Linked DNA regions of Homo sapiens. The protein of the gene in region 1 purifies or fractionates together with the protein of each later gene. This does not show direct contact. Each region holds a gene or a part of one and is shown in the gene's direction. Other genes may lie near its edges.

The links.
Region 2: the proteins of NPY2R (region 1) and SLC35F1 purify together in Homo sapiens (affinity purification with mass spectrometry; 2 studies listed by BioGRID and IntAct, with this or other methods). This does not show direct contact.
Region 3: the proteins of NPY2R (region 1) and SLC25A17 purify together in Homo sapiens (affinity purification with mass spectrometry; 2 studies listed by BioGRID and IntAct, with this or other methods). This does not show direct contact.
Region 4: the proteins of NPY2R (region 1) and MMS22L purify together in Homo sapiens (affinity purification with mass spectrometry; 2 studies listed by BioGRID and IntAct, with this or other methods). This does not show direct contact.
Region 5: the proteins of NPY2R (region 1) and EXOC6 purify together in Homo sapiens (affinity purification with mass spectrometry; 2 studies listed by BioGRID and IntAct, with this or other methods). This does not show direct contact.
Region 6: the proteins of NPY2R (region 1) and BTAF1 purify together in Homo sapiens (affinity purification with mass spectrometry; 2 studies listed by BioGRID and IntAct, with this or other methods). This does not show direct contact.
Region 7: the proteins of NPY2R (region 1) and FLT4 purify together in Homo sapiens (affinity purification with mass spectrometry; 2 studies listed by BioGRID and IntAct, with this or other methods). This does not show direct contact.

What each region holds. Positions count from the first base shown.
Region 1 is NC_000004.12:155,214,606-155,217,576, forward strand, and holds the end of NPY2R (neuropeptide Y receptor type 2), read left to right. Parts: coding exon 1-480; 3' UTR 481-2,471; downstream 2,472-2,971. UniProt on the Homo sapiens protein: Receptor for neuropeptide Y and peptide YY. The rank order of affinity of this receptor for pancreatic polypeptides is PYY > NPY > PYY (3-36) > NPY (2-36) > [Ile-31, Gln-34] PP > [Leu-31, Pro-34] NPY > PP, [Pro-34] PYY and NPY free acid.
Region 2 is NC_000006.12:118,277,764-118,281,263, forward strand, and holds part of SLC35F1 (solute carrier family 35 member F1), read left to right. Parts: intron 1-3,500. UniProt on the Homo sapiens protein: Putative solute transporter.
Region 3 is NC_000022.11:40,809,347-40,812,846, reverse strand, and holds part of SLC25A17 (peroxisomal membrane protein PMP34), read left to right. Parts: intron 1-3,500.
Region 4 is NC_000006.12:97,144,439-97,147,216, reverse strand, and holds part of MMS22L (protein MMS22-like), read left to right. Parts: intron 1-329; coding exon 330-411; 3' UTR 412-2,778. UniProt on the Homo sapiens protein: Component of the MMS22L-TONSL complex, a complex that promotes homologous recombination-mediated repair of double-strand breaks (DSBs) at stalled or collapsed replication forks.
Region 5 is NC_000010.11:93,054,520-93,057,254, forward strand, and holds part of EXOC6 (exocyst complex component 6), read left to right. Parts: intron 1-2,404; coding exon 2,405-2,517; intron 2,518-2,735. UniProt on the Homo sapiens protein: Component of the exocyst complex involved in the docking of exocytic vesicles with fusion sites on the plasma membrane.
Region 6 is NC_000010.11:92,028,270-92,031,769, forward strand, and holds the end of BTAF1 (TATA-binding protein-associated factor 172), read left to right. Parts: intron 1-520; coding exon 521-664; 3' UTR 665-3,168; downstream 3,169-3,500. UniProt on the Homo sapiens protein: Regulates transcription in association with TATA binding protein (TBP). Removes TBP from the TATA box in an ATP-dependent manner.
Region 7 is NC_000005.10:180,643,101-180,646,600, reverse strand, and holds part of FLT4 (vascular endothelial growth factor receptor 3 isoform 1 precursor), read left to right. Parts: intron 1-821; exon of another isoform or gene 822-1,445; coding exon of another isoform or gene 1,446-1,734; intron 1,735-3,500. UniProt on the Homo sapiens protein: Tyrosine-protein kinase that acts as a cell-surface receptor for VEGFC and VEGFD, and plays an essential role in adult lymphangiogenesis and in the development of the vascular network and the cardiovascular system during embryonic development.

The sequences.
Region 1 (2,971 bases):
TCCTTGTTGATCTTGTATGTTTTGCCTCTGGGCATTATATCATTTTCCTACACTCGCATTTGGAGTAAATTGAAGAACCATGTCAGTCCTGGAGCTGCAAATGACCACTACCATCAGCGAAGGCAAAAAACCACCAAAATGCTGGTGTGTGTGGTGGTGGTGTTTGCGGTCAGCTGGCTGCCTCTCCATGCCTTCCAGCTTGCCGTTGACATTGACAGCCAGGTCCTGGACCTGAAGGAGTACAAACTCATCTTCACAGTGTTCCACATCATCGCCATGTGCTCCACTTTTGCCAATCCCCTTCTCTATGGCTGGATGAACAGCAACTACAGAAAGGCTTTCCTCTCGGCCTTCCGCTGTGAGCAGCGGTTGGATGCCATTCACTCTGAGGTGTCCGTGACATTCAAGGCTAAAAAGAACCTGGAGGTCAGAAAGAACAGTGGCCCCAATGACTCTTTCACAGAGGCTACCAATGTCTAAGGAAGCTGTGGTGTGAAAATGTATGGATGAATTCTGACCAGAGCTATGAATCTGGTTGATGGCGGCTCACAAGTGAAAACTGATTTCCCATTTTAAAGAAGAAGTGGATCTAAATGGAAGCATCTGCTGTTTAATTCCTGGAAAACTGGCTGGGCAGAGCCTGTGTGAAAATACTGGAATTCAAAGATAAGGCAACAAAATGGTTTACTTAACAGTTGGTTGGGTAGTAGGTTGCATTATGAGTAAAAGCAGAGAGAAGTACTTTTGATTATTTTCCTGGAGTGAAGAAAACTTGAACAAGAAATTGGTATTATCAAAGCATTGCTGAGAGACGGTGGGAAAATAAGTTGACTTTCAAATCACGTTAGGACCTGGATTGAGGAGGTGTGCAGTTCGCTGCTCCCTGCTTGGCTTATGAAAACACCACTGAACAGAAATTTCTCCAGGGAGCCACAGGCTCTCCTTCATCGCATTTTGATTTTTTTGTTCATTCTCTAGACAAAATCCATCAGGGAATGCTGCAGGAAACGATTGCCAACTATACGAATGGCTTCGAGGAGATAAACTGAAATTTGCTATATAATTAATATTTTGGCAGATGATAGGGGAACTCCTCAACACTCAGTGGGCCAATTGTTCTTAAAACCAATTGCACGTTTGGTGAAAGTTTCTTCAACTCTGAATCAAAAGCTGAAATTCTCAGAATTACAGGAAATGCAAACCATCATTTAATTTCTAATTTCAAGTTACATCCGCTTTATGGAGATACTATTTAGATAACAAGAATACAACTTGATACTTTTATTGTTATACCTTTTTGAACATGTATGATTTCTGTTGTTATTCCTATTGGAGCTAAGTTTGTCTACACTAAAATTTAAATCAGACTAGAGAATAATTTTTGTGGCATGTTGTAACATTTCACAGTATTTACAAGCTATTTTTGCACAGGTACATAGCTCTCATGTATTTAAAGAACACTGCAGTGTTATTTTCTTTGAAATTCATCCTCCACGGACCCATTCATACTAAATAAAACAATGTAATTACATTAAAATGGACCTATCTGTAAGAGGTACTAAAAACACTGGATTCATTTCATCTTGCAAATGTTGTATTTCAAACCAGTTTCACATAAGTTATTTGTCTTCTTTTCAAAATAATTAGCTATATTTTTATATAATATGAATATATACATAAAAATTGTTTCTATAAATTGTAGAACATAGATGCTACAGTATTTTTTATTTAATTATATTATGAATAAAATTGTTATTTCAATAGTACCCAACCAAAGATGCTTAAAAACCTTCTATGTTCATAAAAAATAACAACTGAGATGTTAAAATAGTCATACGTCTTTAGATGCTATTAAAGTTTCATTAGTCATATTTTTGTAAATATGACAGAATTTGTGAATATATTTTTAAAGCAAAAAACTTCAACATGCATATGATATATAGTTACAACATTAATTTTATGAACTGGAGAGCTTTACTTTGTGGATATATTTAAAATTCATATTATAGCTCCTATTAAATTCCTTCCATGATAGATATAAAGGACTGGTTTTTAAGTGCACTGCACTTCTGGAATACTGAAAAAGAATGAAAACAATATGTTAGATTAGGTGTAAGACTTTAAGAAGCGAACAAAAAGTAATGTATATCTGTAATATATAATCAAATGATTCATTTTTCTGTTAGACTAGGCAAATTGTTCAAAAATAACCTTTTTGTCTTTTAAGTAGCAGTCACTTTGCTTAAGATGCTAATAGAAAACTGTGGTTAAAGATTTACCCTCCCTCTTGGTGAATTATTACACTGTAAGAAATGTATATGCTACTGTGTTACATGTTGTATTAGTAAATTATTAGAATCCAATTAATGATTCAATTAACATATATCTTATCCAATTCATTATGTCAATTCATTAATAAAATACCTTTTATGTAGAGGCTTTATGTTGCAATTAAAAAGTTGGGAAAATGAGAGAAATTGTGTGGAATTTTATATCAGAGTGCTTGTCTAAGACAAGGCAGTAAGACTAATGCAACTAAAAAAGAAAAATAAGGGCTGCTGTTCCACAGTTAGTCCAGCTCTCTTTCCATTCTGTACCTGAACCTGAGTCAATGGATCCACTCTTACGACTGCAATTACAATACATAATATGAGGATACGTGGATCTTCATTTTTCAGACAAGACCTTTCTTCTTAACTTCAATTCTGTATCTCTACCGGCCAATAGACCATGTCCACATGGGTGTCTCACCAGCAAATCAAATCTCAAACAGAACCTGCCATTTCAATGCACACCTCATCCCATCTCCCCTCCACGTTGTCTTCCCGTATTCTCTGTCTCAATCATGACACTACTATGTACCTATTTCCCAAAAGCCTTACATTTTGGAATCACCCTTTACAAGTCTCTTTATCGCATGTATCTAATTAATTCCCACATCTTGTTTTAATTCCTACGTGTTTCTTTAATC
Region 2 (3,500 bases), on another chromosome or scaffold:
ATTGCCAAGATGCCATTAGGGGAGACACAGAAGTGTGTTATTAGGTTAAACACCAACAGAAAAAAAAAACTGGCCTGAGGCAGTGGTAGCACATAAGTGACAGCAATTTGCCTTAGCCAAGAAACACTAAACTGATGTAACCATTAAAAAGTGCTACTTTAGTAAAGGGAAAAAAACTGAACTTAACAAAAAGCCATGAAAGGAAACAATGTAATGGGCATTCTGAGCCCATAAAAACCTTTCAGAAGGGAGCAGTTTGCACGAAAGAAATGGTTAATTGGTCTCCAAATGGATTTAGAAAATACCAGACACGCTTTGAGCTAGTTAATAGTCATCCAGGACTTCTCAGGTTCCACCTGTTTCTAAAACCACTTTCCTCAAAGAAATTTAGGACAAGGATTTAAGATCCTAGGACATGCTGTAATGATCAATCTCAGCAAGCCCTAAAAGGGACTGACATTTGCTACCCTCAGAAGGTGTCTCCACAGTGAGCACAGAACGTGGCTTATGGAATTGCATGGAAAATGTGTGCAGAGTGAATGTAAGTGGCAGGGAGGGGGCTACAGACTCTTCCCCACACTGAAGCTGGCTGCTTGAGCCATCTCCCCCTTATATGACCTTTGATACAACTTTAGCCAAATTCTGTGTCCATAAGGAAACACAATAAAAACATAAACTCCCGTGCATCACTTTACCTACCTGTCCCCATCCCCTAAGCATATGAGGCCAACTTACTGCAGACATCATTCCCTCTGAAGGCACATTGTGAGCCACAGAACTGTGCCTGACTCTCCCTAGGGTTTCTCTCTAGTGACTTCGAGGGCTGACCAGCCTTGTGTCTCAGAGTCCTGCCATTTAATTTCTCTCCAGTTGTGCTACAGAATTATATAATTAAATGAAAATCAACAGGGCAAGGAGAGAGAGAAGAGGAGGGCAACAGGGAAAGGAAACCAGTTGCATGTTACAGAAAGCATTTGTCTTTGTGACCCACAACACCAGAAAACAAAATGTTACCTGTGCTTGACAGCACTTCACATGCAGTGGTCCATGAGTATAAATTAATTTTATATTGATGGTAATAGTAATGATCAAAAAGAATTTGTCCTCAAACTATGTGGATGCCATGTGCATATCCACTGAGGTTCTGTTATAATTCAGTGTTAGTTAAATGAGTCATCAAAAGATAGTTTTATTCTGAGCTCTCATATTGCCATTAAAACGTCAGTCCCCTATAGTTGAAGATGATGAAGGACAGTGTAAAAGGAACACATTACAGAGCCATCCATTTAATTTCTGATTGGAAATGAGGCCAAAATGGCCTCCATAGCACAGTAGGGTGAATTTAGTTAACAATAATTTATTGTGTATTTCAAAATAGCTAGAAGAGATTTAGAATGTTCCCAACACACACAAAAAAATTAATCAATGGTTGAGGTGATGGATATCCCAAATGCCCTGACTTGATCATTACACATTGCATGCATGTATCAAACTATCACATGTACCTCATAAATATGTACAATTATTATGTATCAATAAAAAATGGCCTCAAAGGGGAATCAAATACTCATCTTCCTCTTTCTGAAGCATTTGTAGGGTTGCGTTTGGGATGTGTTTACACCAGGGCCTCCTTGGTCCTCATTATCTCGCCCTGACCTACTGCAAGGTTGTGTTGTTAGCTCAGTTCTAGACACATGGCATGCAGGGGATAAATGTTTACTAAGTGAGCAAATGAATGAATGGCAAGCAACAAAGATGGTCCTATTCTTTCCTCTCTCACCTCACAAAATACAGACAAAAGGGAAGAAGTGGAGACAATGGCAGGAGACTTTAAGCTTGACATTGCACTTTCTTTCTGTGGAACTGGGAGATGGCATAACAGCCACTGCAATTCATGGGTCACAGAGGCAGGGAGATATCAAGGGAAGGTCAGCACCCTCTCAAACCCACCCCACACTCCTTGAGAAGTCACCCGAGAGGCCAAGCTCTGATGACTATGTCCTGATGGAAAGCTCACATTCTTCTGTTTAGGAGACCAGAATCCAATAAGCCTTCATTTCTCAGCATCTGTCAATGAATTTCTCTGCCTCCCCACTTTCCACATTAGTAATCTAACCTCATATAATCTCTTGGACAACTCATGTGGTTGCCATTTTATCAAAGTGGAAAGATGGTTGTTGTTGTTGTTTTCCTTGGGGTTAATAAATATGTTTTCTATTTTTTCCTTTGGGATACATGTTTTCTATTTTCTTAACCCGAAGCACTTTTAAAAACAGATTTTGTTATTTTCCTACAACACTGGCCAATTGCAAAATATAGAGCAATTAAAAGCAAGAAGATAATAGTTATTGTTGTTTGTTTTTATTCCATTGTTTTACAGTACTGAACAGAAAGACTGATTGTGATTATCTAATCAGTAAACTCAAGTAAAATGTATGATCGAATACAGCTAAAAATACCCTTCTGGGGAGCAGGAATGTTAGAGTCACATTCATAAGTCTAATAAACAACTTAAACATTCCCTTTACCCCACGGGTCATACTGTCATACTGTGGGTCATACTGTGCTAAAGGATGTGTGAACAAGTGCAATCAATGTGAAAGTCAAATGTCAGAGAAAAGAAAAAGTGTGCCGGGTCAGTGAGCACAGGCTTGTGGTATGCAGGGGCCTTCTTCACTTTTGATGTTGTGGTTGATGCTTGTCTTGGTTTTGGTTTTAGTGTTTTTCCTGGAGGCCAAAACAAAAGAAAGATTTGGCCTCTCCCTGAATATGGAATAATGGGACTACAGAGCAGGAAAAGACCTAAAGGATAATTAAGAATACACCTTTCCTGGCCAGGTGCAGTGGCTCACACCTGTAATCCCAGCATTTTGGGAGGCTGAGGCGGGCGGATCACTTGAAGCCAGGGGTTCAAGACCAGCCTGGCCAACATGGTGAAACCGTGCCTCTACTAAAAATACAAAAATTACCTGGGTGTGGTGGTGCATGCCTGTAGTCCCAGCTACTCAGGAGGCTGAGGATCACTTGAACCCAGGAGGCGGAGGTTGCAGCGAGTCGGGATCACGCAACTGCACTCCAGCCTGGAAACAGAGCAAGAGTCTGTCCCAAAAAAAAAAAAACAATACACCTTTCTTTTTACCCATGTTGAATCTGAGGCCTAGGGAGTTGAGGTGACTTGACGAGCATTACATATCTGAGCAAAGCCAGCCCAGTGCCCTTTATACACTTAACCTAATGCATATGTTCTGAGAAGTCATCTAACCTAGCTATTGTTTTTAAGAATTACAAATAATATTTTAAAACTCTGGTATGTTCAAAATAAAGAGAAAGAACACAACTGAAATCCCAAAGAAAAAGACGAAATCAAATATATGTAGCATATACAGACACATACTTTATATATATATAGTAACTCTCTCTCTCTCTCTCTCTCTCTCTCTCTATATATATATATATATAAAATATTAACTGAGGTATTGATAGGAGTCAAATAGGATGTT
Region 3 (3,500 bases), on another chromosome or scaffold:
TTCCCAGGCTGGAGTGCTGTGGGATGATCACAGCTCACTGCAGCCTCAATCTCCTGAGCTCAAGCCATTCTCCCACCTCCTAAAGTGCTGGGATTGCAGGTGTGAGCCACCGTGTCTGGCTTTAAAATAATCTTTCTGTTCTATAATGCAGTGTTCTAAATCAGGAGAGGCTATACATTGATTTCAGTGGTGCTGCTGTGACTCAGCCACGTCGGGACCCCTCTGGAAACTGATTTTGGACTAGCATTGTCTTTTTTACCCCCACCACTAGTTTTCACCCTGCTAGGATGAATCAACATTTTAGAAACAGTCAGTCACATTTGGTGATTTGGTTGGTATACCAACCCAAACATCATTGTTTTATGCTTAAAAGGCATGAAAATATGCTTCTGTATTTATGTATGTTCTTATCTATTATTCCCATAAGATTGCACACGCTGGGGGGACCAAGTCTTGACCAGATTTACCCAGTGTTTCATTCTTACTCTATCTGTAAGCCCAACTTCATATGTGGATTGTGTTGACCAAATTAAAAAGTATACTTTAGATATTTACAGGAGAGATATAGCCCAGAATGAATAAACCATCTTTTTTTTTTAGTAAGTAGCCTGAAATGTAGATGATGATGCATTCTTAAGAAATCCAGGTGCCAGGCTGGGCGTGGTGGCTCACGCCTGTAATCATAGCACTTTGAGAGGCTGAGGCAGGCAAAACACTTGAGGCCAGGAGTTTGAGACCAGCCTGGGCAATGTAGTGAGACCTCATCTCTAAAAATAAATAAGTTAAAAAGAAAGAGAGAGAGAGAGAGAGAGAAAGAAAAAGAGAAAAAGAAAGAAATCCAGGTGTCAGTTCAGAATTGTTCACAAAAAAGAGGAACCCCCAAATCCCCAAGAACTTAGGCTAAAAATCGTTTATGTGACTGATACAGTTTGGATGTTTGACCCCTCCAAATCTCAGTTTGGATGTTTGACCCCTCCAAATCTCATGTTGAAATGTGACCCCCAGTGTTGGAGGTGAGGCCTAGTGGGAGGTGTTTGGGTCATGGGGGCAGATCCCTCATAAATGGCTTGGTGCCATCCCCTTGGTGATGAGTGAGTTCTCACTGTTAGTTCATGGGAGAGCTGGTTATTTAAAAGAGCCTGGTACCCACGCCTCTCTCTCTTACTCCCTCTCTTACCATGTGACATACCTGTTCCCCTTTCACCTTCCACCATGATCATAAGCCACCTGAGGCCCTCACCAGAAGCAGATGCCAGCACTGTGCTGGCTCATACCTGTAGTCTCAGCTACTCAGGAGTCTGAGGCTGGAGAATCACTTGAGTCTGGGAAGCCAAGGTTGCAGTGAGCCACGATTGCACCACTGCACTCCAGCCTGGGCGACAGAATGAGACCCTGTCTCAAAAAAAAAAGAAATCTAGAAATAAAATGACTACAATTTAAAAGTTACTGCACGATTGGCCAGGCTCATTGACTCACTCCTGTAATCCCAGCACTTCGGGAGTCTGAGACGGGTAGATCACTCGAGGCCAGGGGTTTGAGACCAGCTTGACCAACACAGTGAAACCGCATCTCTACTAAAAAAAAAAACAAAAATTAAAAATAAAAGTTAATACATGATAATCATGGGAACACTGAATATTGATTTAAGCAAAAATCTTAACTATTAGAAGGATGGAGAGAATAAAGAGAGGGATTCAAGACCAGCCTGGGCAACATGGCAAAACCCTGTCTCTACAAAAAATACAAAAATTAGCTGGGTGTGGTGGCTCACGTCTGTGGTCCCAGCTACCTGGGAGGCTGAGGTGAGAGGATTAATTGACCTCCACCCAGAGGTGGAGGTTGCAGTGAGCTGAGATTGTGCCACTGCACTCCAGCCAGGGCAATAGAGTGAGACCCTGTCTCAAAACAATAACCACAAAAAAAGAGGGAATGTGGTATAAGAGAGCTGAATTCTCATTCCCCATAAGAGAATGTAAATAATGTCTAAAAATGATTAATAAGATATCAGTATATTATTATATGGAGATGTATAAATTCCAAAACAAACAACTAGAAGAATTTAATTGCCTCTCTGAAGGAAGATTGGATAAAATAGAGAGGAGTGGGGCAAAAACTGCTATATTTTGTCATTTATACTATGTGATTTTTTAAACTATGTGCATGCTTTGCTTTGATCGATTAAAAATTTACTATTAGAATATTTAATGCTCGGTGGCTTACGCCTGTAATCCTAGCACTCTGGGAGGCCAAGGTGGGCGGATCACCTGAGGTTGGGAGTTTGAGGCTAGCCTGACCAACATGGAGAAACCGTGTCTCTACTAAAAACTCAAAATCAGCCGGGCGTAGTGGCGCATGCCTGTAATCCCAGCTACTCAGGAGGCTGAGGCAGGAGAATCACTTGAACCCGGGAGGCGGAGGTTGCAGTGAGCTGAGATTACGCCATTGCACTCCAGCCTGGGCAACAAGAGTGAAACTCTGTCTCAAAAAAAAAAAAAAAAAGAATATTTAATGCATAGCTATGAATTTGTTAATTGTTGAAGCTTAGTGATATGTTCAGATTCAAGCACAGATTTCTGAACATATTAGATACAGCTGAAGATGCAATTAATGCACTAAAAGATAGGGACCACCAGTATACAAAAAGACACTGTTAGCACTCTGGAGATTCCAAGGGTCTTGGATGCTCTTGTATCAGGAACCAGGGACTAAGACACTATTATAACAAAAGACATTCCTATCATTCAGGAAATTACAAGAATTTTACCAGGAGCTCTGTGTCAGGAGCCTAGGATGAGGACCAGATATATACTTTGCATCATAATATCACAGCCCATCATTTTAAAAAAACCCTAATAAATGATCATCTGTAAGACATTAATTGTAGGATATAATTAATATCCTATATAATATATAGCTTCCTGGAGGTATTTACCTTTTTATAGAGTTTTCCTGGAAAGGACAGTGGCCAACCCAGAGGTAGTGTGATGATGTCAGGTTAGATGATAGTATATAATAATGAAGTTTGTTAATAATGTATTTTTTTTGTAGTTAATGGCCTCTGTTCAAACTATACTCATAGGACCCATTCACACTCCTAAAAATTTTCACCAACCCCAGAGTCTTGCTTATGTGGTTATAACAATCAATATTATTGTGTTAGAAATTAAAACTGAGAAATCATTGAGATATTTGGTTTTGTTTTTTGGTTTTTTTTTTGAGACAGGGTCTCACTGTGTACCCAGGCTGGAGTGCAGTGGCACAATCTCAGCTTACTGTAGCCCCAACAGCCCAGGCTCAAGCAATTCTCCCACTTCAGCTTCCCAAGTAGCTGGGATTACAGGCGTGCACCACCACGCTGGCTAATTTTTTTTTTTTTAATTTTTTTGTAGAGACTGGGTTTCTACATGTTTCACCATGTTGCTCAGGCTGGTCTCGAACTCCTGGGCTCAAGCAATCCGCCCACCTCGGCCTCCCAAAGTGGGGTTACAGGTGTGAGCCTT
Region 4 (2,778 bases), on another chromosome or scaffold:
TCATACCATCATTGTCCTTAAATAATATTCCATGAATGCATTTTATTACCCGTGAGCATTATAATATTTCGGAAGGTTAATGAACTTTTACATGTCATTTTTAGCACACATTTTATATATAAAAATCATACTTTAATACATCTTAACATCTAGGTTTACTCACAATAGATATAAAGCATTACTTTTTAAGAAGTGTTGTGCTAAGCCTGCTGGATGGATGGCTGAATAGATGGATGGATGGATGATGGGCAGACTTAATTTGTAAATACTGAAATGAAAAATAATGAAAATGTTAATATATTTGCTTTCTTTTCTTTTTTCTTAAACAGGGAAGCCTATAGCAAACTTTTGTCTCACCTTGGACAGATGGGACAAGATGAGATGCAGAGACTGGAAAATGATAATACTTAATATATTTTGTGATTCATCCTGTCTATTAATTATCAGTATCTAAAGCCACATTGTTCCACTCTAATTCCTACTTTTAATTAATTGTATAATGTTCTGTTTAAAATAATTTCTAGGATTTTTTTTCCTTTTATATCTGTAAGTAAAAAATGTATAAATAAGGAACTGAAGGTTAATTAGCAACTGTGTAATAGGATCCTTGGAACTTTTTACAAAACTGCATTCTACCTTGATGAAATTTTAGTTAAACTAAATTAAAGAAACATTTTCTGAGAGTGTTTTCTGTGTGTGAGTATTAAGCAGATACTTCATCCATAGACTTTTTGTTGTAGTATGACTTCCTGCCTCCCTGCCTTGTGACTGATTTGTCATGTTTATTTTTTATTTTTACAATAATAGTTATGTTTTAAAATGATACTTTTTCAAAGTACCTGGCTACCCTATACTGTGTTTTTGGTGGGGGAAAGGTGTTGGGAAATGTGACTGTGTATTTGTTTTTCTTTTTTATATGTGTGAGGCAAGTTAACAAAGAAAACCCTTACAAAGCACACTTAACTGTGTTAGGAATGAGACTGAATCTGGCTAAAGGATTATACAGCTGATATCCAAAAAGAAGTGTAAACATGCCAACAGGGTTTATATTTAGGTTCCAAGAGTTGCCAAATTTTTTTTTTATTCATCCTTTCTTTTGGAGTTGTCATTAAAAAAAAAATCATATCAGGAGGAGGAAATAAAGGAGACTTTAAGAGGAGAGTAAATAAAAATATTCTAGAAAAGTAACAATAGTAGTGGTCTGAGAAGTCAGCTGATCCATCTTCTTGCTCTTTAGCCAGAGCTTCTTATAACTTAGCATTTTATCCAAGAAACCTGTTTAGTTTCCTTTAACAACATTGTTTCTCAACTTTTGAACTCTTAACTCATCCAGATTGTTTTACCAGTTGGAGCTTGTCCTTGACTCCTTTTCCTATTGAGCATTATTTGGTTGAAAGAGCTCCAGTCCTAGTTTTGGGAACCCACCTGGGTCTCAAACTCAGCTTTGCTTTATGATCTTGAGCTAGTTACGTAACCTTTCTCAGTCTAGTTTCTTCATGGAGAAGAAAAGAAGAATCCCTTTACTATTTGACAGTGTTGTTGTGAGAATCAATGGGATAATGTACGTGAAAATATTTGGTGGCCCAAATTCTGTTGGGAAATGTACAGACACGATTAGTTTATTACTCGTGCACAATTAAGGCAAAGAACACCTCTCAATTTTATCTTTCTCTAATGATATGTCCCAGATGAATGATCCCACTTTCCAATGTTTTCTTACATCATGTTTTCTAACTTTGAAGTACTTTGTTTCCTTCTTGGGATTATAGTCTTTATCATGGTTCTACTCTTCCTTCAAGAAAACATTTCAACCCTTCTCTGGCTCAAGGAGTATCTTTAAAAATGAAATACTTTGCAATCAGTATTCTGTAGTTAATAGCGTTCTCTTAATTATAATCTGTGAAATCCAAAGGAGTGTCTGTTATTTTCATAACATATAAATGGTCCTTCTCTCAAATCAGCTTCATCAAAGGGAATAAATGAAAGCTTAAGGCTGTTTAATAGACTTCATAACACTGAATTTCTTTTCATCATGATAGTGACTTACTAAACAAATAATGTATGGCTTGGAAAGTTCCAGCAGTCACTAAGGAGTTTTATCTATTTAAGGTGATGCCTTTAAAGAGGTTATTTATGTGTATATGTGTTTTTGTGTGTGTGTGTGTGTGTGTGTGTGTGTGTGTGTGTGTGTGGGTTTTTTTTTTCCAAAGGAGATTGATAAAGATACCTTTGAGAATCTTGCTCCTTAGAGTATGAAAACGTTTAAAGGATAGGAAAAGCTGCTACTGAATCATGCTTTAGGACATATATCTATAGATACTAAGAATAACTAAAATTTGTACTTAAGAATGGTAACAACAAAGTGTGTAACAATATGTGTGTGTATTATATGTTTTGTATTTATGTATAAGTAACTTTTTTTAAAGCTTTTTTTTAAATTGAAAAAAGAAGAAAATTTATGGCTCAGTTCCTTTTTTTTAAAATCTTCACTGATCCTTCACTTATTACTACAATCTTGCCCTCTTTCATTCCCAGACTTGGAGTCCCTTATACCTGCTTCTTTAATAGCCACTTTCCCTAAATACCCTGTAATTTCTGAGGCTGCTGCTTCTACCAGTGTAATACAAGCCATTGTCTTTTGGTCAAATCTGAGTTTGTTCTCCTTTCTCATGTTCTTTGTCCTCTCTGTGACAATTGTATTTTCTTTTATCTTCCCATCATTTCCACAATGGTACTGCTCCTTCCTACATATACAGTTGACCCTTGAGCAACACAAGT
Region 5 (2,735 bases), on another chromosome or scaffold:
CCTGTAATTTCTGCGGATTTGCACATAAGAGATTTGCATATGAGTATCTGACCATATGTGAACATTGTAAGCATAGTGTTTCTTTATCCAGGACAGTCTGGTCTTGTGCTGTAAAAGAATCAATTCTGTATTCACAGTTGGAGTTGGTGCGGGTTTTTCATTCATTAAGTCGGCTCCTCCTTTCCCACTTGGGGGTAAATCAGCCTAGAGAAAAAGAGCCTTAAGAGGTTGCTTTCTGCTGACACTGTGCATTGCACATGCACAGTTGTGCAAATACACACATATACCTGAAAGAAGAATCCTTGAAAATGAGGCTTCTGTTGACAACTCTGTGAGGGGTGTTCATTATTGAAATTTATTTTAATATATAAATATATAAACCTTATTTATAACTATAGTATTAACACATATCCATTGTAGAGTATTACAAAAATAAAGAAAATAACAGTTAACCTTAATCCCACCACATAAATGACAATCATTCTTTTTTAAAAATTACTATTTTAGAGGTGAAGTCTCATTATGTTGCCCAGGGTGGACTCTTAACTCCTGGGCTCAAGTGATCCTCCCGCCTCAGTCTCCAGAGTAGCTGGGACTACAGGAACACACCACCATGCCCAGCTTATAACCGGCATCCTTAACGTTTTTGCAAATTTTCTTCCAGTCTTTTTGGATGGGTTTTTATGTAACTTAAGTAGCAACATTTATCATAAACATTATCCCAAGTTATTTAAAATTCTTTGTAAACATTAATTTTAATAACCACATGATAGTCATCATACAGATAGACCTCACTACTTAACCAGTCTCTTAATATTGAGATTTAGGCTATTTTCAGTTTTTGATAACACAAATAACATTTTTGAGATTAATATCTTTGTGCATAAATTTTTTTCTGTTTCTCGAAGTTGCATTCCAAGAAGTAGGATTGCTGAATCAAAGGGAATGGCCACTTTTATAAGGTTCTTAAACACATTGCAGAATCACATTCCGGAGACGTTATACTAATTTACACTCTTACCATCTGAGTGTATGAAAGTAACTTTTCCTCTTTGTGAAAGGAGGGAAAAATGTGGCCAAACAACAGTTAAAAATTACACAGAACTTTAAATAAGTTCCCTTTTCTTTTTCAGACAGTATATTCTTTAACATTGTCTCAGTATAGTTTCTATCCTAGTGTTTCAACTGTTGGTATGGCCCAGAATGGTATCTTGTCCGAAAGAAAATAGAGTGGCTTTCCATAGTTAATATTTTCATTATAGAATTTTCTGCCTGTTGCAAGAAAATCTCTATTAATACCTGTAAATTGGATGGGGAAATAGTCAAGCAAGTTCTTTACCTTCATCAAGAAAAGCTAGTTTCTGGTGACCTTTCTTTATGAGGTTTTAATCACCCCAGAGTTTTATCCCTCTCAGAGTCAGTGGTCGGCTCTTGTATCCCATGAGTAAATGCAAATGTTTCCTCCATTTGAAAGCAAAACCAGTAAGACCCCTTACTTATAAAGTGAGTTAAAACAAAAAGAAAGAATATAAAAACTAAAGGAAGGTAGTAAGTAAAGCATTTAGCTTTCTGAAACAATTCAAATGGGGATAGGAAGTTGGTTTTAAATGGCTTAAAGGGGATTAGGGTTTTAAAGTTGGATAAAGAGTTTGGTGCTTAGGTTTAGGCATGGCATTGCTTTTAAAAGATTACTTCCATATTTGACAATGATTCTAACTGGAGATTATAAAGTAAATAGTCAATTTTAAGACACCACGGGAAACAAGAGGGTTTCTTTTTTGTTGTTGTTTGTTTATACAAAATGGTAGCCTAGAGTTAACAGGCTGAATCCTGAAGCCCTCATTTCATAATACTACAGAGGATCTATCACCAGAGAGAATCTAGCAGAGGTTGTTTAATGCACTTAATTGAGATTATCTGAGCTTTTGGTTTAAATTACTTTGGAAAAAGTCTTAGGTGCAAACAGCGTCCTTGAAAGGTAAACATACTTACCTCTAAGAAAAAAAGGTTCAATTTAAGTTCTTTAAAATTCTTCATACAGGTTAGTAGCACCAACCTTTATTAATTAAATCTGGGTACTGACTAATGCATAAAGATAAAATTTCTATACATCAGTACAAGGGTTAATATATATTATATTAACATTGTTTTCATTATTTTACAATTATTTGAAAACATGAAGTATTTTACTAGAAAACAACCCCTGGCATTTTTAGTAATTTCAAAGTAAAAAGATCTATTTTGATTGTAAAGTACAGTTAATGAAGTTTTAAAAATGAATTTCCGTATTCTGTTCCATCTAAGAAGCAAGCCATATTAAAATGGACCAAGGATAGCATATAATTTAAGTATTAACTGGGTAAATAATCAAAAGTTGATTTAACATTTCCCCCATCTTTCGCAGCTCCTTGACCTGTTTATGGTTTGGGATTGGTCTACTTACCTAGCTGATTATGGGCAGCCAGCTTCTAAGTACCTTCGGGTGAATCCAAACACAGCCCTTACTCTTTTGGAGAAGTGAGTATATTCTGAAACTTTTTTGTATAACATTTTAGCACCTTTTGATTCAGTGATAAACTGAAGAACTAGAGATTTCTGTCAAAAAAGAAAAGTCTAGATGGAGCTTAAAAGCTCACTCTAGTTTAATGACCAAAAAATAAGCTTTTCTTTCTTGCCCTTCAGAGTTGGTGTAGTTTCATAAGCAACTGCTGTTTATATTGATGTGAACAAAACAT
Region 6 (3,500 bases), on another chromosome or scaffold:
TGGCCTATTGCCATAAAAGGCACTATTTAGACAATTGGCAGAATTTGAAAACAGACTGTATATTAGAACATTTTAATATCAGTGTTAGATTTCCTTAATCTGATCTTTATATGGTTATGTAAGAGAATATTCTTGTTCTTAGGAATACATGCTGATTCCTCTCAAAGGATAAAAGGACATGATGTCTACAACTTTCTTTCAAATTGTTCAGAGAAAAAACTGATATCTAACTATATTTCTGACATCCATATATACATACACATATATAAATGGGGAGAGAGAATGATAAAGCAAATAAGTTCTTTGTTATGTTCTTATAATTCTTCCATAATTTTGAAGTTCTTTCCAAATAAAAAACTGACAAATAAATGTATTTGGAGATCATGAATTTCCCCATCACTTGAAGTACTCAATTCTGTTGAATAATTGTATTAGAAACAAGTGTGATTTTAAAGGAAAATACAATTTGTGAAGTTAACCTCTCATTTTATTTTTTTTTTTTTTGCCAATTTTTCTTAAGGATGGCAAAGCAGAAAAAGCTGACACCTCTACTTCTGGGAAAGCAAGTATGAAATCAATTCTTGAAAACCTGAGTGATCTTTGGGATCAAGAGCAGTATGATTCAGAGTACAGCCTGGAAAATTTTATGCATTCTCTCAAGTAACTATCAAATATTGTAAATGCAATTGCTGCTAGTTCAGTTACATTTCTGCTGATATTCAGCAAATTTCTAAGTTTATGGTGAACTTTTAACTCAATGTGTAAATAGATCTGGAGAATATTCAGCATAATGCTGGCTCTTGTTTCACTGGGGGAAACAAGTTATTCTCAAATATTTGCACTGTATTAAATTTAAATGTTAATGTGAAATGGTTTAAATTTTACATGCTGAAAAGCTGCAGAGCAGAGGAACCAAACCAGGTTTATTTGTGCTACCAGGAGGTGTTCTTAATGGGAACAGGCCTCCTATCTTTAGTCACTTTGTACAGGATGATATCCATGAGTACTTTAGTGTTTGTATATGTTTTTTCTTTTAAATAGAACTTGTTTTTATAATTGATTTAAAATAGGGCTTTTTTTCTATAAAAGCCTTAATGAGCCATAATTTTAAGAATATAAGAATAATGACTATGATATTGGTCAGTCTTAGAACATGAAAATGTCAGACAATGAATTTAATCGGGCCCTTGGTGGAAACATTTATATATTTAATGCAGATGCATAGTGTTTTTCAAATCTTTAACATCATTTTTTCAACTTTTAAGATATAATATCAACTATTCTAAATACAGGTAATGGTATATTTAAGGCTACCATAACATCCTATTTAGAGGGTGGTTTTTTTTAATTTATCTAATGGCTACGATATAGCCAGATTCAAATAACATATGTACTCAATAGGTTTCAATCATATATATAATATATTTTTTGTAACTATGAACATACACAGTTTTCCAGAAATAGATTTTACACTGTTTAGAATTCCAACACCTACAGTGGAAAGACTGTTTATTGTAGTAATGCATGGCTGAAGCATAAAAGGGAGAGAGAATTTCTTTATATACACAAACATACATGAATATGCATATCTATATGCATAGATGTACCTATCCTGCACCCAAAAAGGTGCCTGGTATTGGCACTAAAATCATGTAGTTATACTGGGCAGCAATAATAATTGGGCATGAGGCTGATTACTCAATGGTGAGGGTAGGTATATGTAGATAGATGTGCATGTATGTGTTTGTATATATAATTTTATAAGTTTCACGCATAAATTAATACATGCCTGTGTGCATACATATGTATGGGATATATTTGTATATATATGTACAGGTAATAAACATCCCCAAGGTTTGTGGCTGGCCATACACATAGGCATCAGTTTAACAACCATCAGACCTCAGCTGTACAATAACAGGTGTTTTGTTTAATTAAAATTATACTGTTCTGCAGCATTTAGACATTTGTCACATTTCATTAGCTTTGACAACCATACTGTAACATTAAACCTAGCATTCCACAAGAGAATAAATATAAGATTGAAACTGTAAAATATATGCAACTGTGTGTTATTTGTAGGAAATGGTCACTAGAAAGAGCAAAAGATTATTCAGGTATACAGGTTTTTTTTCATTGTTTAGGATTTTAACTCAAAACTTTATGTAGAACATTTCAGTATATTTGAGTTGAATATTTTTTTATTAACTATTTATTTGCTAGTTCCATAAACCAGCTCTTTAACATAGCTTATAGTAATTGATATTTTCTTAGAATAAGTACAGAGCAATATATCATTAAAGGGCTATGAAGGGGCAAAAGAAATCACACCATAAAAGTTAGTACTTTTTCCCAATCTGAAATGTCAGATAGAGCTAGAAGTCAGATATTTAGGCTGTTTAAACTTTCTGAGAGTTTAATCAAAAGGTGTGTATTTCTAGAAGGATGACTAGAAAAATGATGTGTGGTTGCTTCTGAATGGGAAACAGGAGTCAGAGCTGACAGGAAAACTTAGAGTGGCTATAACATTTTTAAAATAATCTTTTGAGTTGTAAAATAGTAAATCACACATTCCAACTTTTCCATAGAAAGGAAAACATGTAAACAGGTAAGAACTAAGTATTCTTAATTAAATGACCCAGTCATTGTAGTACATCTTAAGAATAATGAAGAGATGTGGAGAATTGAACTGAGTAATGAATGATATTAAAGAACTGCTGTCAATTTCATGGATGTGATGATTTGGTAGTTTTTTCAATGTATGGGTGTGGGAAGTCAAACAAGCATGATAGAATGTTAACTATTTTAAACTGGGAATTGGGTTCATAGATATCCATTGTACTACTTCCCTTGGTTTTTGTGTCTTTATGATAGGAAATAGCAAACTGTTAAAAATATAGATTCAGAGATTATTAGTCTTATCATTTGGGTTTCTTGTAGGAAAATCTTAACATTTGGGGGCCTGGGTATAATTTTTGTTTCATATATTCACTCATATATATGCTTATTGTATATGCTTATTTATTCTACAAACATTTCTCCAAAAAGTATTCTAGTGAAAGGGTAAAAGTCTTTGATGTTGGGACTGATTGAACTGGTATAGCCTTATTCCTTCTGGATGGTTTATATGAACTTACTTATTCAAAAGTAAATATTCCACTGAAGCTATTTGAGAATGTGATCACTTATAGACAAAAGTGGAATTCGAACATAATAGAAATTATACAAAAGTAACAAGCACTCCATCACACATCTGTTCTAAATATTTAATCCTAATAGAATCTTCTATGTCCTGCAGACCTCCCATGCTGGCACCAGTGGAGTCTAAAGTGAAATTGGGCTGGGCACGGTGGCTTATGCCTATGAGAGGCCAAGGCAGGAGGAGCACTTGAGCCCAGGAGTTCAAGACCAACCTGGGCAACATAGGGAGATCCTGTCTCTACAAAAAAAATACAAAAATTAGCCAGGCACAGTGGCATGCTTTTCTTGTCCCAGCTACT
Region 7 (3,500 bases), on another chromosome or scaffold:
GCCCAGCTGGTGGCTGTAAGCTGCACAGGAAGGCAGTGTCACTTCCAGCTAAGGGCTTCCTGGTGGGGTCTGCAGAACTCCAGGACAGGGAATTCCAAGCAGAGCAAAGAACCCCATGAAGCCCCAGAGACAGGCAAGTCCAGATGGTGAATGTGGCCAAGTGGGTGGTCCGGTGAGGCTGGAGTCTGGGAGGAGTGGATGGGAGGTAGGGGAAACGAGGCTGGAGATGCGGCAGTGCCAGCAGCAAGGAGGCTGGTGTCCAGGGGAGACAGGAACTGCAAGTGGATAACCCAGGGGATAAACTGGGGTGGAGGCAGGTAGCAGCTGGGGATGGTGGGGACAGAGGAAGTCCCAGGTCTCTGGCTTCAAGGATAATTTATCAAAGGGAGACCCTGGGAGAGGAGCAGGACCTTGGGTGGAGGTAGGCAATGGGATTTCCTCGGAGACCTCAGCTGATGCACCCGGCCAGATAAGGAGGGAGGAAAGTTGGGAGCACTTGAGTATGATGGGACAGAGGGGAATGGGGGAACCAGGGAAATTAAGCGAATCAGCTGCAAGGGGAGGTGCTTCTCTGTGTCTGGCTTACTCCCCTCCTGCTGCCGTATTTTCCTCCACAGGGCAGTTTTCTCTCCACCAAGGCCTAGCCTGTGCCCCACGTCCCTCTGAGATGCCCCTCGGAGTTGGGGGTGGGCAGGGAGAGGGGTCTGGAGAGCCTCTCACACCCCCTAGACTCTGAGCAAGATTCAGTCAGTGTGTCCAGCTGGAGCCAGGGATTCCTGAGTTTCGATCCTTTTCAGACACTGGCTTCCTCTGGAATCTGGGTTTTCCGGTCACACTGAGGAGACAGGTCTGGGAGCAGGAAGATGCGGGCATTCATTCCCGGAGGAGGAGCAGGGCGCCAGCCCTGGCCGGGCTGGACGGGGTAACAGCAGGCACACCCCCGGCCCTGTCTGAGGCCCGCACCACCCTAGCCCACGGCCAGGCCTGGGTAGATCCAGGTGGTGAGTAGGGGAGGCCCGCCACGTGGCCGGCGAGGTCAGCAGGGGTTCATGGGAAAGGACTTGTCGGCCACAGGAGAGGACATCCTGCCTGCATTTCCCTCTTCCTGCGGCAGGAGCTGGTGGCCCCGATTTAGCAGCACTGGGGGGCCACCTCTGCGCCAGCTGGGTTGTCTGATAACGCCGCTCGTCCTGCCGGCCAGCAAGCAGAGCCTTGACCCCACGGAAGCCGGGGAAACTGCCTGGCATAGCTGGCTGCCCCACGGCGGCCGTGTGCTGGGAGCTTAGCATCTGCTCAGGCCCCCTCCTCCTGGTCTCCACCCCCACGGGGCACTCAGGCAGCCCACGCTCCCCGCAGGTCCAGCCCTTCTCAACCTCATCACCACTCCCTGTTTCCAGCATCTTCCAGAAATTTGTCTCCATTCTGCCCCAAAGGGACTGCTGTAAATGAGCCTTCAGGGCCCCCCCCAACTCACCCACAAGATAAGCACCAGCTTCTTGGGCTCGTGGTACCGGCCCTTCCTGCTGGAGTCCCAGGCCATCCCTAGCCCCGCGTCCACCCAGCCTCCACCCACTGCACACACCAGCCCCAGCACCATGGCCTTTCGCCCACCCTGGACGTGCCCTTTGGGAGACTGCTGGGAACTCCGGGCAGACGGTGCTGCTCCAAGCGGAAGGGGCCTTCCGGGGCAGGTGATGGCTTCGTTCCCGCTCACAGTGTGCCTCAGACTTTCAGGTGGGTTTAGGGGAAGCCCCCATCATCACCCAACTCAACACACTGTCCTCGAAGCTACTCTAAATTCTACCAAATGGAGATTGATTTGTTTTAAGCAGCAAGCGTGCACCGGCACATGCACACAGATGTGGCGTGTCCGGCAGTGGGCCACACCTCCGTGTGAAATGGTTTCTCAGATTGCTTCACAGCAGGGCACGTACAGGTTTTAACCTCGTCACGCAGACCTTATTATGCTTATTTTGGAGATTAGGAAATTCAGGCCACAAGGGTGAAACGGCTCTCTAGATAATAGATGGCTCATTTCAGGGGGTTAATAGGTGTCTGACATCTGGTTCCAAATAGCATGGGGGCCAAGCGGGAAAGAAGGGGCAGGCACACAGGCCACTGTCCACATTCCCCAGGGAATGCCCTAGAGGGCTGGCCAGGTGGACTCTTCAATTTCTAACCACCTCATGGCCATTTTTACTTTGCTGTCCCAGAGACCTTTACAAAGCAGCATGTTGCAGACATTTCCCCCAGGTCCACCACACGCCCGGCGTGCCCCTCCGTGCACAGCCTCTCCACCCTCCCGGTACCCTGTGCCCTCTTTCCGCTCACGCCTACACCTGCCCACACATACTATGGCTTCTTTTGGTCCCTTGGATCCTCAAAACCAGCCATGGGTAAATTGCTGGCTAAGTCCAATCCTGGGAATATGCCACGACGAAAAGACACACAGAAGCCCTTGTCTTGAACTAAAGAACCGTTAAGAGCGGGTCATGGTGGCTCACGCCTGTAATCCCAGCACTTCGGGAGGCCAAGGCGGGCGGATCACAAGGTTAAGAGTTTGAGAGCCTGGCCAACACGGTGAAACCCCATCTCTACTAAAAATACAAAAATTAGCTGCGTGCGGTGGCAGGCGTCTGTAATCCCAACTACTCGGGAGGCTGAGGCAGGAGAACTGTTTGAAACTGGGAGGCGGAGGTTACGGTGAGCCGAGACCGTGCCACTGCACTACAGCCTGGGCAACAGGGCGAGACTCCACTTCAAAAAAAAAAAAAACCTGTTAAAAGTGGTAATGAGCCGGCCGCTCCACAGAGCTATGGAAAAGTGCAGGAGTCCTGGGTGGGGAGCCTCGGTGTGAGACGCTGGGGAAGCAGCACAGCAGCTCAGACGTCAGAGGTGGGGAGGGGCTGTTCCAGATCTAGGGCACGTGGAGGTCTGGAGCCGCACCGGGTGGGTGGCAAGGAGGCCAAGGAGGCACCAGATTCTGTCCATAAGCAGCAAAGGGGCAGGGGATGGTTTTAGGCAGGAGAGGGACTTGTGTTCTAGAAAGATCATCTGACCCCTGAGCAAGGACTGGGCCAGTGGGAGACACTGGTATTGCCACCCGGGGGGAGAGCCATTGAGGCTGGCCAGCAGCGGGGAGGGGAGGAGGGAAAGTGGAGGGACAGCACGCCTGCAATGCCCGGGAGGGGTTCTGCGGCCAGAAAGCATCCACGCCAAGCTGCTGTCAGGATGGTGAGGAGAGGTGGGGGCAGGGGCCTGGCACTCTCAGCCACCCCACCCACAGTGCCCTCCTCTTGGGCCCGCTCCTACTCAGTCTGCAAAGCCCATTTCAGCTCAGAATGGAGGCACTTGGTGACCGATTGGCTGTGGGGGATGAGCGGGGTCAGGAATGTCTGGTGGGTGAGCATCACCTGGACAGCCAACCTAGTGGGAGGGAGAGCAGGGTTTCCCACGCTGATGGAAGAGATGATTACATTTTGTAAAATGCAGAAATGCAA